6 separate regions of the Homo sapiens genome follow, and all the other regions are linked to region 4. The links come from fine-mapping of genetic effects on gene expression. A gene starts in region 4. Each other region holds a variant in brackets. All regions are shown on one strand. Distances are between the middles of the regions. Region 1 overlaps WWC3 (WWC family member 3). Region 2 overlaps SHROOM2 (shroom family member 2). Region 3 has its middle 9.3 kb from the start of CLDN34. Region 4 holds the start of WWC3 (WWC family member 3). Region 5 has its middle 19 kb from the start of CLDN34. Region 6 overlaps WWC3 (WWC family member 3).

Region 1 (5,107 bases), 84 kb before region 4:
ATGTCCATGAAGGCCCAGAACTGTTAGTCTAGCTCGGTGTGTTGACGTATCACACCTTGAACATAGTCCTTGAAAGGGAGAGACAGTTCCTTGCCTACCTCAGATCCCTAAAGGCACCCATGTCTTGAAGCCCTTTCCCTTCTCAAGTCAAGGCGAGAGACCCCAAGGCTCACACCTGGATGGAGGTTTGAGGAAGGGACCCAGGAGCAGAGCAGTTGGCCTGGAGCTGACCTGGCCCCGGGACTGCCCTGGCTTGCCCCGTCCCAGGGGCAAAGGCCAAATAGCAAATGCAACCACACGGGACCCTCATTTACTCATTCAATAAATATTCACCAAGTATGTAGCTGCTGGGCTTACAGCAATGACCTACAATCCCTGCACTCATGAGGGTTATTTACATTTTCACAGGGAGAGACAGGCAGTAAGAAAAGTAAACACTGGTTAGGTAATAACATTTGCTCAGCCAATCAGGGGGACCGGGGTGAGGACAGGGTGGTGAGGTTTTATTCAGGATGGTCAAGGAAACCTCTCTTAACAAGGTGATCAAAAGGAGAGGTCATGTGACAATTTGGAGAAAAGCCACCCCATTCCAGACAGAGAAGACAGAACAGGCCAAGGGCACTGTATGAGTTTGCTCTTTTCTGCCCCAAATTACCACAAGCTTAATGGCTTAAAGCAACACCTATTATTCCCTTACAGTTCTAGAGGGCAGAAGTCGAAAATGGGTCTACAGGGCTGCGTTCTTTCTGGAGGTTCCAGGGGAAAATCTGTTTCTTTGCACCTTCCAGCTTCTAGGGGCTGCCCGTGCTCCTTGGCTCCTGGCCCCACACTATTCTGATCTCTGATTCCAACCTCACATCTCCTTCTCTACTGCCGACCGTCCTGTCTCTCTCTTATGAGGACTCTTGTGATGACACTGAGCCCACCTGGATCATATAGGCTCATTTCCCCATCATCTCAGGATCCCTAATTTAATTACATCCACGAAGTCCCTTTTGCCATGGAAAGCCACATCTTCACAGGCTGTGGAGATCAGGATGCAGACACCTTGACGGACCATCATTCTGCCAGCTGCAGATGCTAGGTCAGGAGTTGGCTCGGTGGGACTGAGGCCCGGTGGGAGGCCCGAGGGGCTGCTCAGTGCAGGCGTGCTTGTACATCTGAGGAACATCGAGGGGCCGATTGGCTGGAGCAGGGTGAGTGGGGAGCAGGCTGATGCCTGTGAGTCAGCAGGCGACCTGCTCATGTAGGCCCCTTGTTGTCCATGCATCGTGAAGATTCAGGAGCAAGACAGGAAGAAGCCCCAGGGCGAGGTTTCTGGACCTTGGCACCGCGGCCATGCTGAGCCGGGTAAGTCTTTGCTGCGGGGGCCATCCTGTACACAACAGGATGTCAAGCAGCCTCCCTGGCCCCTGCCCTAGAGTTGGGACACCTAAACATGTCTGCAGACACTGCTGGAGGTCTCCTGGAGGGTGAAGGCCTTGCTCCCTGTGTGGAGCCCCACTATGCTAGTGGGAAAAGGACAGGCAGCACCTGTGCAGGCCCACCCAGGTGGAGTTTAAAAGAAATCTCTGATTTTTAAATGCTCCAACACAGCCCACAGAGGCACTTCTGACATGCCGCTACTGTCAGTGGAAGGTGGACCTTCCTCTGTAGCTGTGGTGCGTTTCCTAACAAGGTTCTGGCCATCTTGAAATAATATGGTATTTTATTCAAAAGAACTGATGAAGTACCATGCCTGCCCCTTGAACAATTTTCTTAAATACTCGACTTTTCACCCAAATGTATTATCCCAACATTTAGAAGGTTACTCACCATATACTGGCACCATCTCTAGAAAACAAAGAAATCACTTGCTATGTTTGGTAAATGTCACAACCAAACACGTAACAATCATGTTCCTAAGTGTAGCAAATTCCAGCACCCACACTCCGCAGTTTCACCAGAAACAGGCAAGAGCAGACGAATACTCAGAAGAGACAATCGCTCCTCACAAACTCTTGCAGGCTACAGAGAAGGAATATGCATGATAATGAAGAATCACCACACAGACAACTGGTATTGCCAAATGAACTTGGCACTGTTCTGTGGGGAAATTTAAAGCCCACCACGAGTCCATCCTAAAAAGCCAAGAGGCACTGGTTAGAAAACCTCCTAGAAAACAGAAGGCCCATGTCCGTTTAAGTTGGCCCTGGAGCACTGAATCATATGATGTGCTTTTGTTGCTATTTTTACATTTTTTAAAAAGCCAACAAAGTAGCTTTCCAGACGTCCATGAATGGTACAGTGTGCTGAGCAGGCCTAACTGTTTAGCTTCCAGAAAGAACTCCCTCACCCCACCCGACATTCTGCTATTCTGCTCTCCCCGCCCCCCATGACAATATTTCATTTGTGACTCAAGTAACTTTTTAAAAAAGATATGCTTGATACTCTTCTGAAGCACTTATTTGGAAATAATTTGGCTTTAAGACTCTTTCCAGAAGGCACAAACTAGAGAAAGTCCCTAAAAAGAGAATACAAAAGTCAGAGAGGAGAAGAATATTGAAAACGGGAGCCCTGCACAGCTGAGGAGACACGTGACGCCCTAAAATACTATGCCATGCGAGGGTTCGGAAGCCTCTCAGCTTTGTGCATGTCAGAGGATGAAGACTGGAAGGGAGGGAGGGAAGTGAGGAAAGAGAAACACAAGTGCACAAAGTGGGTCAAGCTGCAATTTGCAGGAGGCCAATGGTTTACGACACAGGACAACATAAATGGAATGAAATCAATTAGGTACTGCTCACCTGTTGACCTAATGCTTATTGAATGTCTTATAACCAAGATACATGGCTTTGCCCATTAGCTTATGGAGTTAGAAGCCACACATATAAAAGATCAAGTGGTTTCACTTATGACACCCTCTGGAACTGA[T/A]GCTCGTCTATTGGAAGGAGGGAAGGGAAGGAGGGGTAGAGGTTCTGAACCACCGGGGATGACAAAGCCAAAAAAGTTTCTATTCTTATGGAATCACGTCTGTATAACTGTTTGTAATATTGCAAATTTCACATTTTAAATGCACTTGAAATGTTGTCATATGTATGTATTAAGCTACACGTAAATGAAGATCCTTGACTTGGTATTCTATCAAACGCTGTTCTCCGATGAGACGTGACCAATCACACACAGGAACTATGCCACGCTTCCTTCCACAGGAGAAAGTAAGTAAGTAAGCAGAAGGCGAGGTTGGAAAAAAGTGCTTCTTACCTCTTTCTGGCTTCTTCATATTGCCAATTAAGTCTGACTCGGTCTACAAGTCTTGTTTTATCATCAAAGACAAACTTTCCGGAACAGAAGAGAGAAAAAAAGAAAGGAAACGCATATTAAAAACATATTTCCAAAATAGCAACTTCACTTAAACTTTCGGCAGCAATGAGAAATATTCTTCATCTCTTTCACTTTCAATCTGTGCAAGGTCTGGAAGGAAACACTGAATAACCCTTTGCGGCCACCCCTGGCTGGGGAGGGGGGAGGGGGAAGGGAAGACTCTTGCTTGCCTAAACTGGTAGGGTTTTTTGTTTTTTTTTACAGCAGCAGCATATCTATCTATTCTGTAATTCCAAACAACAACCACAAATTAGGTTTTAAAAGAAGTAGGAAATTACTTAGTAAAAGTTGATACAAAGGCAAAAACCAGTCACCCGATTTTGTGCAGTACATTCTCTAATTCCTCAGTAAACGTAAAATAATGATGTTCTACTCAGAAGCTCCACGGTCTGAGGAAGCTGGACTAGCTGTGTGACGGATGGGCTGGTGGACGCCTTCTGATGCCACGAGGTGTGTTAAAGAACCAAGGGCAAGCCAGGCGCGGTGGCTCACGCCTGTAATCCCAGCACTTTGGGAGTCTGAGGCGGGCGGATTACGAGGTCAGGAGATCGAGACCATCCTGGCTAACACGGTGAAACCCCGCCTCTACTAAAAATACAAAAAATTAGTCGGGCGTAGTGGCAGGCGCCTGTAGTCGCAGCTACTCGGGAGGCTGAGGCAGGAGAATGGCATGAACCCAGGAGGCGGAGCTTGCAGTGAGCCGAGACTGAGCCACTGCACTTCAGCCTGGGCGACAGAGCAAGACTCCGTCTCAAAAAAAAAAAAAAAAAAAGAACCAAGGGCAAAAGGAAAGCAAGCAAGGTCTCAAAAAGCCAGAGCTCGGGGAGTACCAATATAGAGTTAGCCTAAATGCGGTGCTCTGTGACGAGTAGATATACTTAAATATTTTTGTACCAGTTACATTGATGACAATAAAATCCTACACAAAACAAAAAAAGACATGTACAGGAAGTAACTGTAGTACATTTTGGTTAATTCCTCATTCCTGCAAATATTCACACAACTCCAGTTTCAATAAATCAGCTCCATCTGTTGATCTGACCTTACTAGATCACATATTATGGCCACCAAGTCTTTACATTTTTGAAATAACTTCCCATCAACAAGTATCTGAAAATATTCAACTTGAATGATTAGCAGTGAATTTATCGACACGAGTTTTGATCTATGTTGATGAAAAATGTCTTCGCAAATTTATTGCCTTGAATGGCAAGATGAAAAAGTGCCTTACAAGGGACTGAGCATTCTCCAACCAGAATGACAATTGTTCATGGTTTCTTTTTTTGAGACAGGGTCTCGCACTATTGCTCAGACTAGAGTGCAGTGGCACAATCACAGCTCACTGCAGCCTCAACCCCTTGGGCTCAAGCGATCCTCCTGCCTCAGCCTCCCAAGTAGCTGGGACTACAGGCATGAGCCACCACGCCCAGGTGGTTGCCCAGCCATGTTGCCCAGACTGGTCTTCAACTCATGGGCTCAAGCAATCTGGCCACCTCTGGCCACCTCAGCCTCCCAAAGTGCTAGGATTACAAGCATGAGCCACTGTGCCTGGCCACAATTATACATGTTTAAACGGCCTCATCCAATGCTCCTCTCCAGCTTCCTCAGTATAAATATATTTAAGTGGCAGTGCCACAGCTCCAAAAGCTGTCCACAGTGGAGATGAGCTACTTGCCATTTCAGTCCCCTCTTTATTAGTGACCCTGCAATCAACTCATCAAGATCAGTAAACATCATCTCTCAAACC
Region 2 (5,107 bases), 170 kb after region 4:
CGACGTGTAAAGCTGCCTGCCATCACCCCAGAGGGATGGACCCCAGGAGCACTCAGCAGAGAGGAAACTTTGGTTACTGCTCAAACTCCTAGCCACGCCCGCCCAGCTTAGCAAGTGCCACAAGGCCACCAGCACCCCCATAGGGAAGCTGCAGCCCTGGTCCCACATGGGCAGCCTCTAAAATCAATCCCATGGAAAGGTTTGTTTCAGGGCGAACTGTGGGGAGGAGTCTGGGGAAGGAGGGCAGAATGTGCTGCAGAGGGAGGAGAGATCAACAGGAGGTGAAGCAGAGGTGGGAGTACACAGAAGCTCCCACATGGACTGCTCCTGCCAGCCGGCGCCTGCTGTCTCTCCTCCCAGCCTCTGTGCTGAGGCACAGAGATCCACGCTCCCATCTTCCTGGGTCCTTGGGTGCATCCAGGAGGGCTTGCAGCACTCCTACACCATCTGCCAAAGGAGGCCGCCCTGGGATGCTCCAGACTATAGATTCCCAGATAGGCCACAGCAAGGGAAGCAGGAGAGAAGCTCGGTTTCCGACACAGTGCCTTCCAGGAGACCCACGGGTGAGTCCAGCTGTACTGTTAACTCCTGGAGGATGCAAACGGTCGCTCTGGGGTGGGAATGTTTACCTGAGTGGACGGTTGTTTGCTCTGGCCCTTTAGGTGAACAAAGTGGATGAATGGAAGGGAATCCAGGCATCCCAGGAGTTCATAACACAATGTTCTTCACGGAGCGCTGCACTCACGCAGGGCACCAGCTGGTTCTCAGCACACGTTACTATTGAGAGCTTCCCCTAACCCTGGCAGATACACCTGCATGTCCCCATCTTGTCGATAAACTGATTCGGGAAGCTAAAAAATTGGCCAAAGGACAGACACTTTATTCGTCCCAGAGATATGAGGTAACATGCTTAGGGCTGCATGGCTCATTACCGGCAGAGCATAAATCAGCACATGATAAAGTCTCCTCCTAGTTCCTCTCCTCACATCCCCGTATAAAGAGAGTTTTATCTCTAGACATGTAGAACTTAAATACTTAGATACTTAGAACATGCTTTTCTTTTTTTTTTTTTTTTTTTTTGAGACGGAGTCTCGCTCTGTCGCCCAGGCCGGACTGCGGACTGCAGTGGCGCAATCTCGGCTCACTGCAAGCTCCGCTTCCCGGGTTCACGCCATTCTCCTGCCTCAGCCTCCCGAGTAGCTGGGACTACAGTCGCCCGCCACCGCGCCCGGCTAATTTTTTGTATTTTTAGTAGAGACGGGGTTTCACCTTGTTAGCCAGGATGGTCTCGATCTCCTGACCTCATGATCCACCCGCCTCGGCCTCCCAAAGTGCTGGGATTACAGGCGTGAGCCACCGCGCCCGGCCATGCTTTTCAATACATACCTGACTTGACTTCAGCAACATATCAATAGCCACAAGGGATACACAAATTCAGGTTCCTCGATGGCCTCAGTATACAGTGGGGAATCTGTAAACGTGGATCTGCAAATCTATGCAACATGTTTTGCCTGTTAATCCACACAACATTCGCCCTCAGACATGGGGAGTATTGACCTGCTGAGAATATAAGCTTTTCAGGTTGTTGGTAAACAGGCCCTGGAGTGCCATATCCATAATCTATTTCTCCATCTTCCCCTTCCCTGGGCATAGCAAGTGAGCAGCCACAGATGCAAAGGATGAAAGCAAAGAGAAACAATAAAAAAGTGATAACTTTGTTACAACACGAGTAAATCAGAGGGAAAAAATCACGAGAAAAGGACTGGCCAACACTGTAAGTGTCCAAGAGACTAGGGAATGTTGTGTAGAGCTGTTTCCACATGTAACTCAGCACAAGCATTTAGGCATTACCAGAATGCAGACTCCAAAAGTGCTAGTAAGGATAACAGCAATACGTAAAATAAGTCCTAGGTCTCATTCATATTTTAGGACTGGCCGAGGCTTACACTAGGACTTCTTAGGACAGGACACTTTATGCAACTGGCCGTTTTGCAAGCTATTCTCCCAATAAAAGTGTTTCCCTCATTCATTATTCCTCCAACCCCCTTTTCCCTCTGATTAGAGTTCAACTTATCCAGACATCCCCCTAACACTATGTCTCTTACATTCGTCGGAGCTGATAATCTGGAGAGTATGTTGACATTTTCCAGCCATATTTGGATTCGCACAGCTATTGTGACAACCACTAAAAGTCCTACCTTCCTTTGGTGTGCACTGCATTCCAACCCAGCACGGTTAGTCATTGCAAAAGACTGTTTATGACACAGCATTCTCATCCGTCAGGCACGGCCTGGTGCCGGAAAGGCCACTGTAGCAGTCACCCCTCTTGTAATAAAAACAAAATCCCCACCAATAAAAGGCCAATAGAGTTTGTGGTACAACAATTTTGAGGTTTAGTTCCTCTTCACTGGGGTTGAACATTATGAGACTGGTTTGCCGGCCTCATTCTAGAAAGAGGTTTGTCGGGTTTCATGGATACTGAGCTAACACCAAGACAAGCACGGAATAATAACAATGGCTAAAGGCTTTTGGAAACCAAAATGAGAAAACCAGCAGATCGAAGATGATATTCTGGTGGCTGAATTGTCCTTTCAAAAGGTGGGCTGTCTTAGAGCCCAGATTTCACCTATGAGACTCGTCTCAAACCTTCATAGCCATCAGAGCTGGTGGCAGCAGCCAGCATGCGTCCCCGTGCTCC[A/G]TGAAACAGCTGCAAAGGGACTGTGGGAAAACAAGGAATTCTCTGGAAGGCAGACGCCAACCACAGATCAGCCAAGCATGGGCTCAGAGGCGGCACAGATGCCAAATCCATGTTCAAAATGGCTCATCTCTGGGGAAAGATGAAAGAGACGATAGGAAGGTCTTAACCTTCCTTAGCCACTAAGAATTCTTTAGAAAAACACACAGACTGGAGGCAGTGGCTCATGCCTGAGGTCAGGAGTTCGAGAGCGGCCTGGGCAACATATCAAGACCCCATGTCTATAAAAGATAAAATAATTGGCCGGGTGTGATGGCTCATGCCTGTAATCCCAGCAGTTTGAGAGGCTGAGGCAGGCGGATCACGAGGTCAGGAGATTGAGACCATCCTGGCTAACACGGTGAAACGCCGTCTCTACTAAAAATACAAAAAAATTATCTGGGTGTGGTGGCACGTGCCTGTAGTCCCAGCTACTCAGGAGGCTGAGGCAGCAGAATCACTTGAACCCGGGAGGCGGAGGTTGCAGTGAGCTGAGATTGCACCACTGCACTCCAGCCTGGGTGACAGAGCGAGACTCCGTCTCAAAAATAATAATAATAAATAAAAGAATTAGCTGTGCGTGGTGGCATGCACCTGTGGTCCCAGCTACTCAGGAGGCTGAGGCAGGAGGATGGCTTGAGCCCAGGAGTTTGAGGCTACGGTGAGCCCTGATGGCACCACTGTACTCCAGCCTGGGCAACAGAGTGAGATCCTGTCTCAAAAACCAAAACCAAAACCAAACAAACTGAGGTTCACAGCAACAAAAATGAATAAACTACAACTGCCACCAGAAACAATATGAATGAATCTCACAAAAGTAATGTTGACTGAAAAAGCTAGACACAAAAGAGTCCATACTAGATGATGCTATTTATATAAAGGCCAAATAGAGGCTAACCTCATCTATAGTGTGGACATTCAAGACAGTCCTATATTTGGGGGGTTGGGGAGGCTCAAGGGCACCCCTGGGGAGCTAGAACATTCCTAAAACATAAATAGGAATGTTCCATCTCTTGATCTGGGTAGCGAGTTACATAGCTGTGTTCATTCCACAAAATGTAGAGGAAGGGGTTGCGACACTGCAGCTGCCAGGAATTATGTTTCTCAACTCATGAAGAGGGACTGTCTGCAGCAGACGGGGTGAGACCAGAGAGGAGCAGAGACGGACAGAAAGGAGGGTGACGGGAGCCAGTGTGGGCTGGTGTGCGCAGAGGTGAGGGCCAGGTCCTGGCTCTGAGTCCTTTGTCTCTGGAACTACCACTCCCCTCATCCTGCCCAAGTAGATACAATAAAAGCCTTTATTTGTTTTCCAGAAAAAACAAAAAGGTGGGTGGGGGTGGGTGACAAGGTGGGATGGGAGATGCTAGCTTGGAATGACTCCCCTGCCATTTCAAAAGTGAGCTGTTCCAGCAGGAAGCAGGGGGAGAAGTTATGGAGAACTGTGACCCCGGCTAACTGCTCAGGCTGGCTTCTTGTTCAGGTTTACTGGGTGGGTCTAAATCTCTCGAAAACATTCTTTAGCAACACAGCGCTTGCTAAACAACAGAGTCAGTGCCCCATAAACATGGGCCAAATGAGCCAGACTCCCTAACAAAGCAAAACAAAAACAAGAAAAAAGTCCTGGCAGTATACACTTCTGCAATAAAGTAAGGGTCGGCCAACTACAGCCTTTGGGCCAAACCTGGCCTGCCACCTGCTTGGTGAATAAAGGTTTAGTGGAACACAGCCACGACCTTCATGTATACACTGGCTGTGGCTGCTTCCTGCTACTGCAACAACCCTGAGGAGTCCCACAGAGAACAAGTGGCCCAAACAGAAAACATTTACGGGCTCCTAACAGAAGACACTTGCCAACTCCCACGCTAGAGAAATACTTTAACTTGCAAATCCAGCATCAGGAGATTGGAGGTGATGGTAGGCAACTGAGCAAGAGTGGGAGTTGAGAGGAACGCAGGAGCACACCAATTCGCCAAGAACTTTCAAACACTATTTTGAAATCTACCATTTTTTAAATTAATTAATTAATTTATTTATTTATTTTAAGATGGAGTTTCGCTCTTGTTGCCCAGGCTGGAGTGCAATGGCACGATCTCAGCTTGCTGCAACCTTTGCCTCCCGGGTTCAAGCCATTCTCCTTCCTCAGCCTCCCGAATAGCTGGGATTACAGGTACCCGCCACCACACCCAGCTAATTTTTTTATAATTTTAGTAGAGACAGGGTTTTATCATGTTGTCCAGGCTGGTCTCGAACTCCTGACCTCAGGTGATCTGCCCACCTTGGCCTCCCAAAGTGCTGGGATTACAGGCATGAGCCACTGCATCCGGCCTTAATTTTTTTATTTTTTTGAGACAGGGTCTTGCTCTGTGGACCAGG
Region 3 (5,107 bases), 58 kb after region 4:
CTCAGTCAACCTCCTGGGCTCAAGAGATCCTCCCTCTTCAGCCTCTCAAGTAGCTGGGACCACAGGCACGCACTACCATGCCTGGTTAATTTTTGTATTTTTTGTAGAGATGGAGTCTCGCTTTGTTGTCCAAGCTGGTCTTCAACTCCTGGACTCGGGCGATCTGCCTGTCTCACCCTCCCAAAATGTTGGGATCACAGGAGCGAGCCACCGCGCCAGCTGGGAAAGACACTGTTAGTTCATGGGAAATGACCTTTTTCTAGCTAAGTCTTGAATTACAGGCTTGTTGGAACAGTTTCGGTAGGTAAGACAAGTGGAAGATGCGGAGTGTGTGAAACTGACCTGCTAAGACTGGGGACAGCTTCAAATGGAACCTGTGTAAGAAATGAGGCTGCCAAAAGGCAAACGATGCCAGCTACCCAGTATGTAGGACTAAACATTACATGGAAGTCAAAATCCCACCGGACTCCTTTGCTTACAGGGTTTCCATAAGAAGGAATTTATTCTGAGCAAATGAGCAGAGATGTGTGCAAAGATCTAAGTGCAAAGCACACCCAATGAACTCTGTAACTGAGGTTACAACTGGGACAAAAAGGCAAAATCCTAAAACCACACTTAGAGAACTGTTCAGTAAACCATTTTATATCCTTATAATGGGATATCACACCAAAATTCAATACTATGTTGAAGAATAATTAAGGAAAACGTTCCCAATACTGCTAAGTAAAAAGCAGATTTCGAAAATATTATTATATAATCCTGTTTCCTTAAAAAAAGCAAAAGGAAAAAGGAGACAGGGAGGGAGGAAAAGAATGGAGGGAGGGAGGAAGGGAAAGAGGGAGAGAAAGACGGAGGGAAGGAGAGAGTGAGGGGAGGAATGGGGGAAGGAAGGAAGGAAGGTGGGAAGGAGGGAGGGCAGGAAGGAAGGAAGGGGGTACGTGGCTATGTTGCCTTCCATGGCAAAACAGGCTTTGCAGCTGTGATGGAATCGAGGATCCAGATGTGGGGAGATGATCCCGGCTTATCCAGGTGGGCTAGTGTCATCACAAGGGTTCTTGTGTGAGGGAGGCAAGAGGGTCAGGGAGGGAAATGAGATGATAGAAGGAGGGTCAGGGAGAGACTGGAAGACGCTAGACTGCTGGCTTTGCGGATGGAGGAAGGGGTCGTGAGACCAGAAATGGGGTGGCCTCCAGATACTAGACAGGCAAGAAACCAATTCTCCCTGGAGCTTCCAGAAAGGAACACAGCTCTGCTCACACCTTGACTTTAGCTTGGCGTGACAGATTACAGACTTCTGACCTTCACAACTGTAATGCGTAAATGTGGCATTTTAAACCACTAAGTTTGTGGTAAATTGTTACAGCACCAATAGGACACTAACACACTGCCTATGTCTGGCTGGAGAATTCTTTTATTTTTTATTTTTGAGAGAGTTTTGCTCTTGTTGCCCAGGCTGGAGTGCAGTGGTGCAATCTCGGCTCACTGCAACCTCCACCTCCCGGGTTCAAGCGATTCTCCTGCCTCAGCCTCCCGAGTAGCTGGGATTACAGGCGCCCGCCTCCACGTCCAGCTAATTTTTTGTATGTTTAGTAGAGACGGGGTTTCACCATGTTGGCCAGGCTGGTCTCAGACTCCTGACTGGCTGGGGAATTCTATGTGATCTCTTTTGTTCTTCAGTGTCCTACAATGTGACAAGTTTATGTGCTTTTCTGCACTATTGGTTATCTTTTTTAAAAAAAAAAAAAAGCAATGCACACATGCATTTAACTACACCCTCTCCTCAAAGCCCACTAAAATGACAGAAACAGCTTAAAAGAGGCATTAACCCTCAGAGAACACAGCAGATGATTTACCAAAAAGATCCTGGTAGCAGGAAAGGTGATAGACAAATGCCAACTGGCTGGGTAGACCAGAAGGCTGAGATGCAGACCTGCCAGGAGCAAGACTCTTTGTGGTACCAGGTGCTTCTGCAGGGAGTGGGGTGTCGGCGGGGGAAGTACGGGGGACTGTCAGTAGAAATAGTGCCTGAGAATCTATATCCGATGCCCCCAATTACCCCCTTCACCGCCGCCGCCCATAATCACCAGACCACCAGTCCCCTTCTGTGGCAGAAGGCAGGAGGGCCAATCTGAACTTGGAGGGAGGTAGCTGTACAGTCTTGCTCCCACTGGGCTCCAAGTGTTTGATGAACTCCAAGTGTTGTCATATAACAGATTTTCATGTGGAGAGCAGAAATAGCCACTTCCTTTTTTTTTTTTTTTTTACAGTATTTGGAGAATTTATTTTTCTTTTTTGAGACAGGGTCTACTCTGTCGCTCAGGTTGGAGTGTAGTAGTGTGATCATGGCTCATTGCAGCCTCCAATTCCTGGGCTCCAGTGATCCTCCTGCCTCAGTCTCCCTAGTAGCTGGGAACACTGGCACATTTCACTACACCCAGGTAATTTTTTTTTTTTTTTGTAGAGACGGGGTCTCCCTATGTCTTCCAGGCTGGTCTTGAACTCCTGGGCTGAAGCGATCCTGTCACCTCGGCCTCCCAAAGTGCTGGGATTCCAGGTGTGTGCCCCCGCGCCCAGGCAGGTCTGCTATTTTAATATTTGTTTTGTTTCTTCTGGTTGTTGTTGTTGCGGCTTCCCTTCTACTG[C/A]CCTCTTTTGGGCTATCTGAGCAAGGTCGAAAGTTATCTATTGAGTTGTCTGAATCTCTTTGTACAGTTTTTAAGTGCTTGTTCTAGAGATGACAATACACAGGCATTTCATTGCCTATTTTGAAAAAACTATTTATTTATTTATTTATTTATTTATGACAGGGCGTGGTTCTGCCGCCCAGGCTGGAGTGCAGTGGCACAATCTCAGCTCACTGCAACCTCTGTCTCCTGTGCTCAAGTGATCCTCCCACCTCAGCCTCCCCAGTAGCTGGGACTACAGGTGCAGGTCACCATGCCTGGCTGATTTTTTTGTATTTTTAGTAGAGATGGGGTTTTGTCATGCTGCCAGGATGGTCTTGAACTCCTGGGCTCAAGCGATCCTCCTGCCTTGGCGTCCCAAAGTGCTGGGATCACAGGCGTGAGCAACTGTGCCCGGTCCATAGCCTATTCAGAATTAATATTTCATTACTTCCAGAGGAATGTAGCAACTTTACCACTAGGTGTGTCCTTTTCCTTGCAACCTTTAGGTTATAGCTGTCATATACATTAAGATCTACATCTCTCCCTTCTAATTCATAAATACCATTTTGGTTTCTTTTTCAATCAAACTTAGAAAAACATTGAAGAAGCCAGGTGCGGTGGCTCACGCCTGTAATCCCAGCACTTTGGGAGGCCGAGGTGGGTGGATCACCTGAGGTCAGGAGTTCGAGACCAGCCTGGCCAACATGGTGAAGCCCCATCTCTACTAAAAATACAAAATTAGCCGGGCCTGGTGGCACAGCTACTCGGGAGGCTGAGGCAGGAGAATCACTTGAACCGAGGAGGCGGAGGTTGGAGTGAGCCAAGATCGCGCCATTGTACCCTAGCCTGGGCAACAAGAGCAAAACTCCTTCTCAAAAATAAGAAAAAAAAATTGAACATGCTTTTCTTATATATGCTAAAAAGTTGACAACTGTTATGGACTGAATGTTTGCCCCCCTTATCCCCTAACTAGATGTTGAAATCCTAACCCCAGTGTGCTGGTATTAGGAGGTGGGATCTTTGGGAGGTAATCAGGTCATGGGGGCAGAACTCCCCATGAATGGGATTAGCGCCCTTATAAGAAGAGGCCTGAGAGCTACTTTGCTCTCTTTCCACCATGTGAGGATACAACCAGGCCAACAACCCGGTTCTCACCAGAACCTGACCACAGGGGCACCCTGATCTTGGATTTCCAGCCTCCAGAACTGTGAGAAATCAATTTCTGTGTTGTTTATGATTCACTCAGTCTATGGTACTTTGTTATAGAAGCCTGAACGGATTAAGACAACATGTAATATTTGCTAATAGTTTGAGTCCTTTGAATCAATTTAAGAAGAAAGGCTCATGCCAGTAATAGTTTAAAAAGTACTCTAATTCCAAATATCCGTTCTACAGGCGATAGTTTAAGACTGAAAATTCTGCACGAGCAGAATAATGTAAACAAAATATTCACACTCAGGGTTTTTCGTATTTGAAACTCTCCCTGCATGCTATATTCTTTTTTTTCTTCTTCCTTTGATTAGAATGGGCCACAAAAAATAAATAAATAGGGCCGGGCGCGGCGGCTCACACCTATAATCCCAGCACTTTGGGAGGCTGAGGTGGGCAGATCACAAGGTCAGGAGATTGAGACCATCCTGGCTAACATGGTGAAACCCCGTTTCTACTAAAAATACAAAAATTAGCTGGGCGTGGTGGCACGTGCCTGTAATCCCAGCTACTCAGGAGGCTGAGGCAGGAGAATCACTTGAACCTGGGAGGCGGAGGTTGCAGTGAGCCAAGATCGCACCATTGCACTCCAGTCCGGGTGACAGAGCAAGACTCCATCTCAAAAATAATAATAATAATAATAACAACAATAATAATGATTAAATTAAAAAAAATAAATAACAAAAAAAGGGTAACACATCTCCCCAGTTTTGTTCATAGGCCAGTATTTATATATGATCGGATATGAACAAGGACGTCAGTCTTCTGGTAGAATGTTTAGCTGTTTAAGTATATCCAGTTGAGTAATCAAATGTCATTGGTATAAAAATAAATTCCTCTCTGAAGAAAAAGTTTAAAGTTTAGAACTTAGGAAATGCCAGAGAAAACAAAGAATTTTTAGAAACATTTTTTCCTACATATTCTTGAGCTCTCTTTAAATGCCTACATAATGAGCTGTAATAGAGCAAAAATGTCTAAAAATTCCTTCACAGGACGTGTTTGCTCTAAATCAACTCACTATTGAGATAGGGCAGCTGGATGTACTTGTGTCAAGTCAGTGGAGAAACACTCCAGGCTTACGATGGAGTCGCCACCACCAGGCTGGGGATCTCGATGTGTACATCTTAATCTCTGGATCCTTTCGACACCCAGTTCTCATTCGCTTAACTTTCCCTTTTCAAAAGCAAAATTAATATGTAGGCTGGGCAGGGTGGCTCACACCTGTAATCCCAGTA
Region 4 (5,107 bases):
AAAGTTAATTACAACTTTAAAGGGTAACCCGCCACCTATAAAACTCGGCCAGGTTCTGTTTTGAAAGAGGAAGAAGAATGACTATTACAGCCTTCAGCCGACTCCACTTAAATGTTTGTGGCTTGCTGAACATTCCATACATATTTCGGGCAAGGTATTATGGGAGCTGAAGTTCAAGCTGTCCCCTGCTGAATTTTCACTCACTATAAAAACAACGTCTCATAAAAGTACACACGTTTTTACTTTACAAAAAAAAGGTAAAATATCCACTTTTGTTGACTCAATTGACAATTTTAGCATCAGAACGGAGACTTTTTAAAAACCTTTAAGTGATTGTCTGAAAAGTAACAAATCGATTTCTGGAAAAAAGGAATATAGGAAATGTGTCTGAAATACATGGAAAACAAGATTCTCCAAGCTGATTTCTGTATGGTCCATTCACGTTTGTCACAGGTTACACCATTAAAAAGAAAATCCTCACATTGATATCTTTCAGCATGAATCTCCACTCCAATATAACCACAACTGTTTTATATTACCCTTGGAAAGTGAGCCTTAGCCTTTTCTAAGCAAAACACTATTTTAATTGGTTCATTTTCCAGTTGTTTGGGTTTTTAACATACATATGGTATAAAAGGGCACTGCATTCCAAGCAGTTCTACCAATTCCAGAACCATCCAAGGGTTGATCAAACAGCTGGGGCTCTAGCCTTTGGTTAAAATTATAACATGATCTCACCTGATTTTCAAAATAACTAGGCATCTTTTTAACCCATAAAATTGTACTAGGATTGATATAGGTTTCTGAGCCCAGAGGTTTGCAATGTTCAGCGAGAATGTTAGGGAATCACGATCTTTTTGTTTTGCTTTCTTTTGTTTTCCCCTGCTTGAACTCAGAGAAATCTTCAAACAATTCAGCAGCTTCTCTCCTCAAAAGTTTATTTTCAGACGCCAGTGCCATGCAGGCCGCCTTCCCTGTGCAGGTAGGAGGAAGCAGGCACAATGTCACCACACTGGGCCTTTGCAAGTCTTCAAATCACTGGGAAGCCTGTGGTGTTTCCTTTTTGGCACTCAGGCCCTGGAAGGAGAGTTGCTCTAGAGAGGACAAGACATCAGATAACCTGTGGAAACACTTGATGTCCACAGAAATCCCAATTCCACACAAAATACATCTCTGTAAAAGCAGTTGAACAATCGAAACCCGTAGACAATCGAGCAAAAAGTTAAGGAAGAGCTTCGTTACATGGAATTAATTAAATGAAATCTGATAGTGCTTTTACAAGAATCAGTTTTTACTTGATTGGGTTTTTATACGTGAATAAGACAGCTTTGTACCCCATGCATATCTTTCACAAAAAGGAAACTTAAAATACAATTCTTGTTTTTCGTTTATTCCAAAAGCATATGGGACTAATCATATTGCATTCTGGCTGCAGTACAGAAGGCTATTTCAAACAGTTTTAACTCACGAGTTTTAAGGCGCTAAAGAGCAACTAGAGTTTGGGAACAGACTTCTCCAACTCCAAAAGGGTTGGGAATCCCTCAAGGGCCCGTCTGACATCAGGTTTTGGATGGAAACCAGCCTGAACCCGCCAGACAGGGAACCCGCACCCCAAAGCTGGGGCGCACGTTTGTGATCCAAGGTGACAGCTCATCTCGCCACCGCGGGGCTGGGGACACCTGCAGAACCAGGGCCGGGGCAGTGGGCCGCAGACGCCCGGGACCGGGATGGGCGAGGCTGCCGCAGAGAAAGGAAAAGAGGGCCATCTGTCAGCCCCAGGAGAGGAAATTCCAGGAGCCCAGTTCCCAGGCGCCGGACAGCGGGTGACGTGAGGGAACCGAATGAGAGGGTCCGCCCAGCGGCGGGGGACCTGTAGGCGGCCGGCCTCGGCGCTCAGAGGGCTCGAGGCCTGGAGAAGGGGCACCTCCATTCTTGGTCAGAGCCCTGGGAGTCGGGGTATTGGGAGGGTGGATCCTCTCCCGGACCCCCGGAACCAAAGATCTTCACCCAGCCCCGAGGGCCTCCTGGTGTCTCCGATCCTCTCCCTGGGCCCAAGGGATGGGGGCGCCTCGATCGTAGCCTGGACCGGAGCACTCCAGGGAGTCCCCTGGTTCCGGGGATGGAGGCGCTCCGAGCTCTGCCCGGGCCCGGGGGCTCTCGGCGGCGGCCCCGCGCTGGGCGGGGCGTGTCCCCAGCGCATCCGCGGTGGCGCCGGCCGGCGGCCCGGGTCGTAGCGCCCGCGCCGGGTCTGGCGCCCCCAGCCGGCCCGCTTACCGGTCGCGGGGGTCGATCCACGACGTCTGGCGCGTGTTGTGGTCAATGTAAAAGACGCGACCGTCGTAGTCTCGCGCCTCCTCCCAGCCGGCGGGCAGCGGCAGCTCGGCGCTCTCCCGGGCCCGCGGCGGCGGCGCGGAAGGAGCTGGGGGCGTGGGGACCGCGGCGGGGGGCGCCGGCGGCGCGGTTCCCGCTGGGGCTGCGCAGAAGGCGGCGGCTCCCGCGGGGCCTCGCGCGGCTGTCCCCGCCGTCGCCGCCGGCCGCCGCTCAGCCAAGGCATGACGGCGCGGGCCCCGCCGCCGCCCGGCCGCCCCGCGCGCGCCGCCTCCTCCGCCAGCACTAAGGCCCGGCGCCCGGGGCGCGGGGGCGGCCGCGGGGAGCCGCCCGCCGCTCCTGGCGCATCCTCCGCCCGGCGCCCGTGCACCGGCGTCCGCCCGCCCGCCCTAGCAAGCCGCTGCCCGCGCCGCCCACTCCGTTCAGGTAGCCCGGGTGGCCGCCGCGCGCGAAGTCACAGCCCGGGAGCCGCCGCCGCCGCCGCCGCCGCTGCCGGCCGCCCCTCCGTTCCCGCGGCGCGCCCGGCCATCTTCGTTCCTCGGCGCGGCCCGGGCGAGCAGGGGCAGGGCGTTCGCAGGCCCCGCCTCCGGCCGTCCCGCCCCGTTCTCACCCAGGCCCCGCGGCTCCTCCCACGCCGGCGGCTCCACCCACGCCGGCTGCTCCTCCCGAATCTCCCACGGAGGCTCCCGCTCCTCCCGCCGCCTCTGCTTTTCCACCCACTCCCGCTGCTCCGCCTCCCCCGGCCCCGCGTCCTCCGCGCCTCTCCGTCGCCGGCTGCTCCGCCCCCAGTCTCCCTCGGGGTCCTCCTCGGCGCTCGGCTCCTCGACCCCACCCCCACCCCTCCGCTTGCTCCTCCCCCTCCGCCGTCCTCCCTCTCCGCGCGCTCCTCGCTCTCTCCCTCCCGCTCCGCCACCTTCCTCCGGCCTCGGGAAACCGCATGGAGGCCAGGATGGGCGCCGCCGCGTCAGTCCGCCCCCGGGCCCCCGCGTAGAGGAAGGCGGGCGGGGAGGACGACGCCCTACCCGGACTGCGGGCGCGGCCTGCCTGGGGTGACTCCTCGGGCGCAAACAATTCCCGAGAGAGCGGGCAGTGCCCTCCCTTCACCCGCTCCCGGGCTCTGGCTGTCTGGAGACCCTCTGCGCACTTGGCGGGAGGCTGCGCCCTCGGTCTCCCACACAACCCGTCTGGTCCCGCGAAGGTGGGAAAAGCCCCTGAAGGCGGGGCCGAGGGAGCTGAGGAGCTGGGGGAGCCCGCGGCCGGTCCTCTCGGGCGGCGCAGGGAGGACGCCTCTGGAAGCGGGCAGCTGGGCAGGTGGCCACTTTGCGTCCCCGCCAGGACAGCCCTAGAAGGGCTAACCTGGGGGCCCACACTAGGCGGGAGTTCCTTGACCTTCCCTGAGCGCTTCATCCGGTTTGTGGGGTCTGATCGTTTGAGCGGAGACCCAAGTAGACCATTGCTGGGGAGGAAGCCGGGTCAACTCCTAAAACTTTCAGCCTAGACGGGAACTTCTGTTTCACTGGCTCCCAGCTGGGGAAGCTGAAGCTCCAGAGTTGGGGCTGTGTCTTGCTCTAAATCTCCCACCTACTTCGTGCCCCAGACCCACAGCCGCAACACGTTATGCCAGGAAATGCAGGACAGTATCAGGGAGATTTTTAAACAGTTACAGTGATACAAAAATATCTGGTAGAGCCTGATTGAAATCCAGATACACAGGGGAAGAGACTGGAGGAAAATGTCCTGAAATGCTCACAAGAGTTTGCATTCCTTTGGCGGGATTTTTAAAAATGATTTGCCTTCCAATTTTTTGTAAAATGGTAATATTACTTTTATGAGGGGAAAGGTTGTTTTAAAAAAGAAGAATGGGCCGGGCGCGGTGGCTCACGCTTGTAATCCTAGCACTTTGGGAGGCCCAGGCGGGCGGATCACGAGGTCAGGAGTTCGAGACGAGCCTGGCCAGCATGGTGAAATCCCCGTCTCTACTAAAAATACAAAAATTAGCCGGGCATGGTGGCGCACGCCTGTAATCCCAGCTACTCGGGAGGCTGAGGCAGGAGAACTGCTTGAACCTGGGAGGTTGCAGTGAGCTGAGATCGCGCCACTGCACTCCAGCCTGGACGACAGAGTGAGACTCCATCTCAACAACAACAAAAAAAAAATTAGAAGAATGTGGGGCCGGGCTCGGTGGCTCACACCTTTAATCCCAACACTTTGGGAGGCTGAGGTGGGAGGATCACTTGAGCCAGGGAGGTCGAGGCTGCAGTGAGCCGTGTTTGCACGATTGCACTCCAGGCTGGGCGATGGAACAGAGACCCTGTCTCAAAAAAAAAAAAAAAAAAAAAAAAAGAAGAAGAAGAAGAAGAAGAATGTGAAGTTGTGAAGGTATAGCGACGTCCAAAAAACTATCCAAGGAAGGTCTTTCCTCTCCCTCCTCCTACTACAACACAGAAACTTTCTTGCTCCCCAAGTATCTATCTACCCCTACCTGAATGTTCTATGTGAGAAATTCCACCGCATGAGTCCTTTTAAACATGTGTGATTATTACATGTCCAAGGGAAAGAGTGGGAGGGTCAAAAAAGCACATATTTTGTGATGTCGCATGTGCCAGGGAATGCCCCAAGTGCTGAGTGTCCCTGCTCTGACATCTTCCCTTCCGATTGGCATGATTTATCGCCAGTGGGGCTGCCACTGCCTTCTTACCTTACCACCCAACATGGCCGTTCTGAAGCTGCATTTCCACCCTCCCTGTCACCTGGTCCTTTTAGAATCTCACAAATCTGG
Region 5 (5,107 bases), 29 kb after region 4:
CAGTAATGTTCAATGTCAGACCAAATACTGTGTTCTGAGACAATTTTTGCTATTTTGACGTGCTTATGCTGTCACCTGGTGGAGAAATGGAAGAATCCCACTAATTTATCAACTAAGTTTATGGAATATTCTAATCTTTTGTTGTCATTTCAATAATGTTCACAACATCTTCACCAGGAGGAGATTGTGTCTTAAGAAACTACTTTCTTTGCTCATCCATAAGAAGCAACTCCTGATCCAGGGACAATGGCTCACACCTGTAATTCCAACACTTTGGGAGGCCAAGGCAGGAAGGTCTCTTAAGCAGGAGTTCGAGACCAGCATGGACAACAAAGTGAGACCCCCATCTCTGCAAAAAAAAAAATAAACTATTAGCCGGGCATGGTGGCACATGACTGTAGTCTCAGCTACTCGGGAGGCTGAGGCTATAGTGAGCCGAGATCACACCACTGCACTCCAGCCTGGGTGACAGAGTGAGACCCTGTTTAAAAAAATTAAAATAAAAGTAGTACTTGGATATTGTTTTTAAAAAGAAAGAAAAAGCTCAATCAATGCATGGAGTATGAACAAGTAAATAAAAATCACCTATAATTTCATCATAGTTAACATTTTAGCCCATTTCCACCCCATCTTTATCCAGCTCATATTTTTCAAGCTGGAATCTTCTTTTATATGCATTTTGGTTTTTGTTGTTCTTTGCTCTGTATTTTTCCCATTTTATTATGAACCTTTTTTTTTTTTGAGACAGGGTCTCACTTTTTCACTCAGGCTGGAGTGAAGTGGCGTGATCATAGCTCCTTGCAGCCGTTAACTCCGGGGCTCAATAGACCCTCCTCCCTCAGCTTCTTGAGTATTTGGGACCACAGGCATGCAACACCACATCCAACTAATTTTTGTAAAAATTTTTAGTAGAAACAAGGTCTCCTTATGTTGCCCAGGCTGGTCTTGAACTCCTGGGCTCCATCGATCCTCCCGCCTCAGCCTCCCAAAGTGTTGGGATTACAGGCGTGAGCCACTGTGTCCAGCCAAAAACTTTCCCATATTAAACAAGGTTGAAAAAATTTTAGCGAACAACTCAAATACCACCCAGATTCTCTCATTAACATTCTACTGTATTTTCCTTTTTCTTTTTATTCATTTTTCTGCTCTGATAAGAGGCAGATTACTATAGTCTTTTTCATGTACCTATTCATTTGTTCATCCCTCTATCCATCCATCAATCCATCTTATTCTTTCATACATTTCATAGTAAATTGCAGACATCAGTACACATCCCCCTAAGTTTTCAGCAAGTATGCCACTAACTAGAGATTGATATGTGTTTACACTGGTTTTCTTTGGATATAAACTTTACACTTAATAAACTGTAACAATCTTAATACATGCAGGTTTTGCTCATTTTTTGCATTTGCCGATTTTCATAAACATTTTGCTTAGCATCACATTAAGCCAACAAATTAATCTCAGAAGGTGGAACAACTTTGCAAAATTTAATTTCCCCATCTGGGACTGGGGACATGTCTCCATGGCTTCTTTTGGCTCTTACTAAGGTTGAGCAGTTTGCAACATACAGGGTCTTGCACATTTCATATTAAGCTTATTGCTAGATATTTGGGAGTTTATTGCTTTTTTGTGTGAAAGTACTCTGTTTCAATTCTAATTTCAAACTGGCTCATTGTGTAGGAACACGAAAAGATTGTTGATGTTTGTGTATTTAGTATCCAGCTATATAATTGAACTTTCTGTTGTAGTGTAATAACTTTTCTTGGACTTTTTTTAGGTATAGGGTCAACTTAGCTGAACAAAGATTCACACACCCTTCTAGGATAATTATACCTCTTTTCTCTGTCTCCTGACTTACAGCACCCTGGCTAGAACTTCCAGAACAATCTAGCTGGGCGTGGTGGTGTACGCCTGTAATCCCAGCTATTCAGGAGGCTGAGGCAGGAGAATCGCTTGAACCTGGGAGGCAGAGGCTGCAGTGAGCCAAGATCACGCCATTGCATTCTAGCCTGGGCAACAGACTGAGACTCCGTCTCAAAAAAAAAAAAAAAAAAAAAAAAAAAAGGAACTTCCAGAGCAATCTTACGTAACTTTGGTAATGACAAGTTTTCAAGTCTGGTTCCCTATTTTCAGGGAATTCTTCTAATGTAGTGATTCACAAGTGTGGGAAGACCAGGGTCAGTGAAGGGGGT[G/C]CTTTGCTGGGGGGAGGGTGGATTTGAACAAGGCCCCACAGGCGATCCTGAAATGGCCCCCACCACTCCAAGGTTAGAAAAAACTGTACTAATCCTTCATCGTTAAAGATATATTTAAGTGTTCGTTTAAGATAGACAGCATTGAATGAAGTGTCTTTTGTTTTTTTAGTTTACAAAGGGTGCTTATCGGAAATTAATGTGGAACTCTCTCGCTCTTTCTCTCTTTATATATATATATATATATACCAGTTTTACTGAGGTATAATCCACATACTGTACAACTCGCCTGTGTAAAGCATACAATGCAGTGGTTTTTAGTACATTCACAAGGTTGTGCGACCATTGTCACCATCAATTTCAGAACATTTTTGTCCCTCCTAAAACGACCCCTGTGCCCATGAGCAGTCACTCCCCATTCCCCTCTTCCCAGCCCCTGCCCACCATTCATCTACTTTCTGTTTCTATGAATTTCTCTACTCTGGACATTTCATATAAATGGAATTGTACAATTTGTGGCCTTTTGTGTCTGACTTTTTTCACTCGACATCATGTTTTCAAGGTTCATCCACATCGTGTTTGCAAGGTAGTGGTAGGAAAACAAAAGCTGTTTCCCGATTTCTTCCCACCAAGTTCAGCTGTTTCAATGATCCTATGACGAAGATTGTGCCACAAGGAATAGCCTTGTGGATGTGACAGTTACCATCCACGGGCCCACTGTGTCCTAGTGGAACTCCATTCAGAGCCTGGGTTTGATGACCTTATGGGATTTCTTCTGGACCTTTCAGTGAGGACTCTATCACTACACGGTCCGTCGCATCTGGCTTACTCACAGCTACCCAAACCCCACCTCGGCTGTAGTAGCCAGGAAGTTGAAGGCCTGAAGTGCATTTACCAGCCAAGGTTTCAGCATCTCGTCACACACTGCCTCAGTAGCTTACGAACAACATGAGAGGCCTCCGTGAGCACGGGAAGTTGCCCAACGGAGAAGTGCAGGTGTCCCCTCCGGTCACCGCATTTGCTTGTCCTCTGTTTCCCAGTAACCCCCACATCCCGGCACTGCTGCCCCTCCATCTCTCTTCCTCTCTCCCCACGGCTCTGCCATGCCCCTGATTTGGGCCATCACCACCTCTCCTTGGAATTGCTGTCCCACCTGTCACCAGCCTCTGCCTCCAGCTTGGCAAGGCTGCCTGACAAGAATGACCGCCAAGGCCTCTGGTGCCTGATCCAATCTTGCCCACCTCTTGAGGCCAGATTCCTTCCAGGTTAATGGGGGCAGAAAGAGAACTGTGAGCTCCCGTCTGTGGGGATCTCACTCATGCACAGGTTGAGAGCCAGAGTGGCATTCATGAGCAGAAACTTCTTTTCCTGGTGTAGGTCTGTGAACAATCCCTCAGGGCACTTTCATCAACATGTCATCGTCACCAGAATCCATAGTTGACATTAGGGTTCATCCTTGGTGTTGTACATTCTATGGATTTGGACAAACGTACAATGATATGTGTTCATCATTATGGTAGCATACAGATAGTTTCACTGCCCTAAAAATCCTCTGCAATCCCCTCTTCATCTTTCCTTCTTCTCTAGCCCCTGGAAACCACCGATTGTTTTACTGTCTCCATAGTTTTGCCGTTTCCAGAGGGTCACACTGTTGAACTCTTACCGTCCGTAGCCTTTCAGATGGGCTTCTTTCACTGGGAAATATGCATTTAGGGTTCCTCCATGTCTTGTCATGGCTTGATAGCTCATTTCTTTTTGTGCTGAAAAATATCCAATTGTCTTAATGTATCACATTGTTTATCCACTCATCTACCAAAGGACATCTTTGTTACTTCCAAGTTTTGGCAATTATGAGTAAAGCTGCTATAATCATCTGTGCGCAGGTTTTTCTGTGGACGTGAATTCTCAGCTCATTTGGATAAAAACCAAGGAACACAATTGTGGGATCATAAGGGTCTGTCTCTTCTAATTCAAAATGATCCCAATCTCTGGTTTTAATGGAAGGTGTGGGTAATTAATTAGATGTTTTCTCTGAAGGTAGGTTTAGGAATGATGGAACCAGATACAGATACCAAACCCTGGAAGAGACAATACTAAAGAGAATTTAAAATAATTAAAAGTGAAGAAATACTCTTTTTAAAAACTTGATCAGGCCAGGCGCAGTGGCTCATGCCTGTAATCCCAGCACTTTGGGAGGCCGAGGCAGGCGGATCACCTGAGGTCAGAAGTTCAAGACCAGCCTGGCCAACATGGCTGAACCCAATCTCTATTAAAAATACAAAAAATAGCCGGGTGTGGTGGTGTGTGCCTGTAATCCAAGCTATTCGGGAGGCTGAGGCAGGGAGAGTTGCTTGAACCCAGGAGGCAGAGATTGCAGTGAGCCGAGATGGCACCACTGCAATCCAGCCTGGGTGACAGAGCGAGACTCTGTCTCAAAGAAAAAAAGAAAAGGAAAAAAAAAAACAAACCGTGATAGATGACTCTAATGTCTAATAACTCCGTATCCCAAACTGTTTACCTTTTGGAAATAAAATTGCTAAAATGCATGCCTTTTATAACCAGCAAGAATTCTCCCAAGCCTGCATACCTGTCTCAATCTGCTGGTTCTCCCACCTGGCTCTGTATTGGCAGCAGGTTTTCTATTGGGCCTATTTTGATGGTAGGTATTCATCTGCGTTAGTTAAGGGTGAACAATAGCAGCCCAGTTACCAAGTAACCCGATTTAATAAGCAGCTGCATTCTGGTTGGTTGACAAAGGACTGAACTAATGGTTGCAGACCAGCTGGCACGAACTGCGGCGAATCCGTCAAGATGTCAATCTAACGAGCCAGTCCTGTTGTGACCGAGAGACAGTTTCCCCAGAATAACTTGGGCCTGGAGAGCAGGATGAAAAGCAGGGCGATCTGGCTGATTCA
Region 6 (4,744 bases), 93 kb before region 4:
GCTGGCTTTGCATGTCCTGCGTGGTGAAGGAGCCTCAGGACAGACGCACGACAGGTGGCCAGCTTCCCAATGCCAGAGAAGAGCAGGCTCTCCTGGCTAGAAATCAAAGTTGGAGAGGAAAGCAGTAGGTGGATACCCACCATGCTCACCACGTCAGGAACAGGGAATTCTTCCCCCATGCAACAGAGCTGCCCGGGCCGGAGCGGGACCACAGCCTGCTCAGGGCACTGTCCCACAAAGGCAGGTGGAAGCACCAAGCACCAACTTCAGGAAGGGTGGGGCGTGGGCGGAGATGGAGGTCACCCATCTTCCCTCACTCCTTCCCCCTTGTCAATCACCTCCTGCTTCGGAGCAGAGGCTCCAGAGACCCAGGGAGCAGAAGGCAGTGCCCCCCACCGCATGCCCCTCCTAGGCCAGGGAACATCCAGGCAGGAGAGGCTCTGAGTGATCATCAGGAACACCCTCCAGCCACACACAAGCCACCCCGTGGAGTTTTTCCAGCAGGCTTTCCGCTGGAGGTCGTGTCCCCGCTGACCCACCTCTCCGTGGCGCCCTGTGCGGAGGTGGCCCGTGCACGCCGCAGCTCCTCCTCTAGGCGCTCCCGCTCCTCCTCCAGCCGGGCCACATCTCCCGCAGAGCGGCGCTGTGCAATGATGAGCTGAAGCTCCTGCAGCAGGGCCTCCTTCTCCTTGATGAGCTGCAGCCGGTCCCTGTCAGCCTCGGCCGTGCTTGGCCAGGACTCATTGTCAAGCCGGGCCAGCTGCTGCTGGATGTTGGCGACTCTGCAAGAGAGACGGGGAGGAAAAAAGGACATCGGCGGACTGAAAACGCCGTCTTCACACCTTCTCCACGTCTCACACTGATTCTATAAACTCCTTTTGCCAAATAAGTAGTGAAATGATTACACCAAGTGACCCTTACACTTAAAAGGATATGGAAACAATGTCCTAAAAAATGGTGCAGAAGTCTTTTCCTGAAGCTCCCTTAGCCTGAGATTCGAGATGAAAATAACCCCATCGTGCCTGTTCCGAAGAACTGACAAAAAGGCCAGCAGCCCTCAACATGCCCATACTCGGCGGCTCAGACTCCTGGTTTCCTACATGAAACTGTCCCAGAGCAGGAGGGAGTCTGCTTGTTTCTTCTGCCCACCCTCATCAGTAGCTAAACAGCATGCTGGACCCCCAGAAGTGCTGCCGGCCTCCCGCCTCCTCAGCTGTGTCTAACCACTGTCAGCCGCTTTAGCAAAATAACAAAGGAGAAATGCACTCATCATCTGGCGTCCTGAAGGAAAGACCTTCGAAGCCCCATGCTCCGCGTCTTCTGGTTCTGTGTGCTCCTTCCTGCACCAGAGCCCCTGGCCATACATGAATTCAAAACACCTTGCGGAGAGCAAGTGGGCACTCGACAAAAGCTGAGTGCATTGAACAGTGAACAAACACGCCTGCAAATATGTGAGAGGAAGAGAGGCAGCCCTGTGAGCATGGATGCTGGTGAGAGATGATCTGGGTGGATGCAAAGCGCAACAATCCTCAAGGTGGAAAAACAGAGGCTCCTATCAGTTTCCATGCCTCGAAATTTCCAAGTGCTTGCTTGGCAAACAGACTGCATTACTTTTTGTGTCATGAGGTGCTGTTGAATGCAGATTAAGTGAAACAGATGTGGCCTGTATTTTTAAAGCATCCTTTAAAAGTAAGAGTAGAATGTTTTAAGCCCTTTAAGTAGGGTTAAAGATCAGGGATATGTTTCTAGGGAGAAACTAGGAATGGCAAACTCAACCTGAACCCCATGCTGTGGAGGACATAGTTGGCATACTC[G/A]CCCAAAAACAAAATCCAGAGGCTTCTCTGAGATCACAAAGAGCTGTGAGAACAGGGAAGTGGCAGGCACACGTGGCCCTATATCCTCCGAGGGAGATGCAGGGCAGAGGTGCTCCTGAGACTGCCTCCTCCTGTGCCCGCGGTCCACGGCACTAACCAAGGCTGGCTTCCCACCTGCTGGGTCTAGACCTCAGAAGCCTTCTCTACACTATGAGCCATGTGGATATCCCCAATTGACTAGCATTGCCACACATGTTAAAACCTGCCACCCAGCCTTGTGCCAAGTCAGGCTCCACCTAAACTAGACACGAGCACATGGACTCATGAGGATCGGGCATGACTCCCTCTCTAGCCACCAAACGAATCTGAAAGCCCACAGTTAAGGAAAGAAACGGGTACACAAGTTACAGTTTAAATGTATGCATTTTACTCAAGTCCACTTCAACAAGGTAAAGACACTAGTTGAATGTCAGTAGCTTTATTAGACAAGTTATTTTCTAACTTAAAACTAATGTCTGGAAAACGTGTTGGAAGATGGTGCCAAACCATGTCACCAGAAAAACTAATGACAGAGGCAGCTGAACAGGGCTAGGACTCCAACTGGGCTTAAGCATCCACCTACGTCTAATTAGTGTAATTAAAATTTATGGCAGTCATATATCCAAAGCCCAAGGAAAATACACTCCAAGCAAACCCACAAATAAGTCAGTGCTAAATCAGACATTATACCCAATGACATTTCTGGAACATTCTACAGTAGACCAAGACAAGTTAAGAAATAAATATAAAAGATGAAGAACAATCAGCAAATCTGTGTCCTCATACTTTTTTTCATTTCCATTTATCTGATCCACAGGAAAGTCTGAGCCCAGCTAAATTTTGCCCGACCATTTTATACTCATACTAATTACCATACATATAATATAAACAGAAGTATTTTACAGAACACTCCTTTTGAGTTTTCTGAGCCTTAAATATGAAGAGATCAAGATTCCATTTGAGTCTGCCAGCTCTAGGTTAGCTGCTAGCCTACAAGGATTCAAGCTGTTGAAGGTGGCGGAAGATCCAATTCCAGATAATCACAACCTTTCCAGGAAAATCTCAAGTAATATGCACTGTCAGGAAAAAAAGAATGAGGAAAAAAATGAATTATAGGAGGGAGGAGAGGCAAAGGGTGAGTTTCAAAAGACCTGTCTGCTGCAGGCATAAAGAAACAGAACAGCAGCCCAAATTAAACCATGTCCTGTCACTTCCCACAGCTGGCAGGAAAAATATGCAAGGACAAACGGCAAGGGACGACCTCTCCAGCAGAAACAAAATCTGCAACCCATCTGGAAATGTTTGGGCTGTGCTGAATGCTAGGCAAACATTTCTGTGCCTTCCAATTGTGGGGTTTAATAATAAAATTTCAAAACAATGCAACAATGCAAACAATCTCATCTTCATTTCAGAGCTATATATGAATCTAGAAGAAACTGGAACATATTGAAAAGTTCAATTTCTTTCTTTGTCCCCATGTTCTAGGTGTGAACATTTGGGGCCTGCTTCAGCAAGGTCGAGAGAGGCACATCTGTCTGTCTGTCTGTACTGGAAGCCAAAAGCACTAGGATTCCTTCAACAATCGATTGTTCTTATGTCCCCATGAGACAGACAAGACGGCTTTGCCTTTAAAACCGTATGACTTGTCTACCTTGCCGTGGGCCGGAAACGAGCCATCTGCAGGGAGTATCTTTAGTACGTTAGGTTTACTTGAAGAAACAGACTTCCTGCCTAAGGCTAAACACAGATGTACTGAGTTTCAATGCACCTTCTTCTACATCCACGCCAAACAGCTGATCCACTGGTTGGAGCCTCGCTCCTGTGAGTGCTGTTGTTCCAATTTTGGGTATTAAAGGAAAAACAATTTCCAGAAAGGCTTTTCTTTGAAATATCATTTCAGTGAAATTAAATACATGGAAGTAAAGCAAGGTCATGGTTAAAGTTTGCAAAACAAAATAACTTTCCCGAGTTTTTTGTAAAGAGAACTAATAGCAGCTTAAAATTAGAGAGGATTTTTTTTTTTTTCTGTGAGCCAACTATATTCTTCAGTGATTTTTATTTTTGAGGGGTAATGCATTTTATGGCCTATATAAAATCTCTCCCAAATGCCTTTAAAAGCCTTAAAATATATGCCCCCGTGTCCTGATAGTGAAGAAAGCAAATGTTCAATCAAGCATGCAGGTTTCTTATTTATTATGTGTTTCCCAAATTCTATTCCCTGAGCAGGTCTAATGTAGACAGACATAAAATATGAATCATTTTTCCCTTATGATTTTTGCTCAAACACTTTTCTGTTACAACCCAGGCACCATTAAACCATGCATTTATGCCGCAGAAACTATTTAGACTCTCACAATTCACATGAAAATCTTAAATACGATTTGCATTTTTATAGGAAAACAATGCACTTTCAATAATAAAAAGTTCTGAGGCATATCAAGAATAATCCCTAATTATTTGAATTTATACCAAAAATCTGCAGTCTACAATATCATTTCTCATGGTCCTAAAATCCTGCTGCTTTCTGGAATAGCAAGCAGAACTCTGGACAGCCCACGGTCCTATCCCATGGTGATGAGTCGTGAGGGATCCCAATGGCACATTCCAGGACGCGGGGTCAGCTTAGAGCCTCATACCTTCAGATTGCAATTACGGCTACAGGTTCGATACTCCTTACATTTTCTCTTAGTTTTCTTGTTGTAAATACCCATTTAAATAAAAAGCAAAGGTTAAAGAAAACAGCTGAGATGTAAGTCAGATGGACAATGAAATCACTTCAGCTGATTGAACTAAACCAGCGTCCATTCTACTCAACTCTTTATGTCAGAAGTTTGAGAAGTCTGAATCTAGAATATGTGGGATAAGAAAGGTCTACTAATACACCAATATCT

Evidence for each region. PIP is the estimated chance that this variant, and not a neighbour inherited with it, causes the effect.
Region 1: its variant is fine-mapped to the expression of WWC3 in whole blood (TOPMed, PIP above 0.99).
Region 2: its variant is fine-mapped to the expression of WWC3 in whole blood (TOPMed, PIP above 0.99).
Region 3: its variant is fine-mapped to the expression of WWC3 in whole blood (TOPMed, PIP above 0.99). The same link has a PIP of 0.9 or more in monocytes.
Region 5: its variant is fine-mapped to the expression of WWC3 in whole blood (TOPMed, PIP above 0.99).
Region 6: its variant is fine-mapped to the expression of WWC3 in cerebellum (GTEx, PIP above 0.99). The same link has a PIP of 0.9 or more in cerebellar hemisphere, cerebral cortex, esophagus muscle, gastroesophageal junction, prefrontal cortex and sigmoid colon.

Annotation. Positions count from the first base shown.
Region 1 is chrX:10,096,713-10,101,819 of GRCh38, reverse strand. It overlaps WWC3 (WWC family member 3), which reads right to left. Exons shown (of 24, transcript NM_015691.5): 9 at 3,241-3,314. Among named protein-coding and RNA genes, the nearest start is that of CLCN4, 58 kb to the left of the region's middle. RefSeq lists an enhancer at 3,387-3,436. The variant T/A (reference allele first, on the strand shown) is at 2,911.
Region 2 is chrX:9,844,484-9,849,590 of GRCh38, reverse strand. All of the region lies in intron 1 of SHROOM2 (shroom family member 2), which reads right to left. Among named protein-coding and RNA genes, the nearest start is that of SHROOM2, 61 kb to the right of the region's middle. The variant A/G (reference allele first, on the strand shown) is at 2,699.
Region 3 is chrX:9,955,490-9,960,596 of GRCh38, reverse strand. No RefSeq gene overlaps it. Among named protein-coding and RNA genes, the nearest start is that of CLDN34, 9.3 kb to the left of the region's middle. The variant C/A (reference allele first, on the strand shown) is at 2,643.
Region 4 is chrX:10,013,026-10,018,132 of GRCh38, reverse strand. It overlaps WWC3 (WWC family member 3), which reads right to left and starts at 2,879. Exons shown (of 24, transcript NM_015691.5): 1 at 2,460-2,879; 2 at 2,275-2,457. The coding sequence starts at 2,554. RefSeq lists silencers at 2,907-2,966, 3,007-3,176 and enhancers at 2,997-3,880, 3,881-4,764.
Region 5 is chrX:9,983,929-9,989,035 of GRCh38, reverse strand. No RefSeq gene overlaps it. Among named protein-coding and RNA genes, the nearest start is that of CLDN34, 19 kb to the right of the region's middle. The variant G/C (reference allele first, on the strand shown) is at 2,196.
Region 6 is chrX:10,105,816-10,110,559 of GRCh38, reverse strand. WWC3 (WWC family member 3) reads right to left here. Exons shown (of 24, transcript NM_015691.5): 10 at 540-782. Among named protein-coding and RNA genes, the nearest start is that of CLCN4, 49 kb to the left of the region's middle. RefSeq lists enhancers at 1-423, 424-1,141. The variant G/A (reference allele first, on the strand shown) is at 1,815.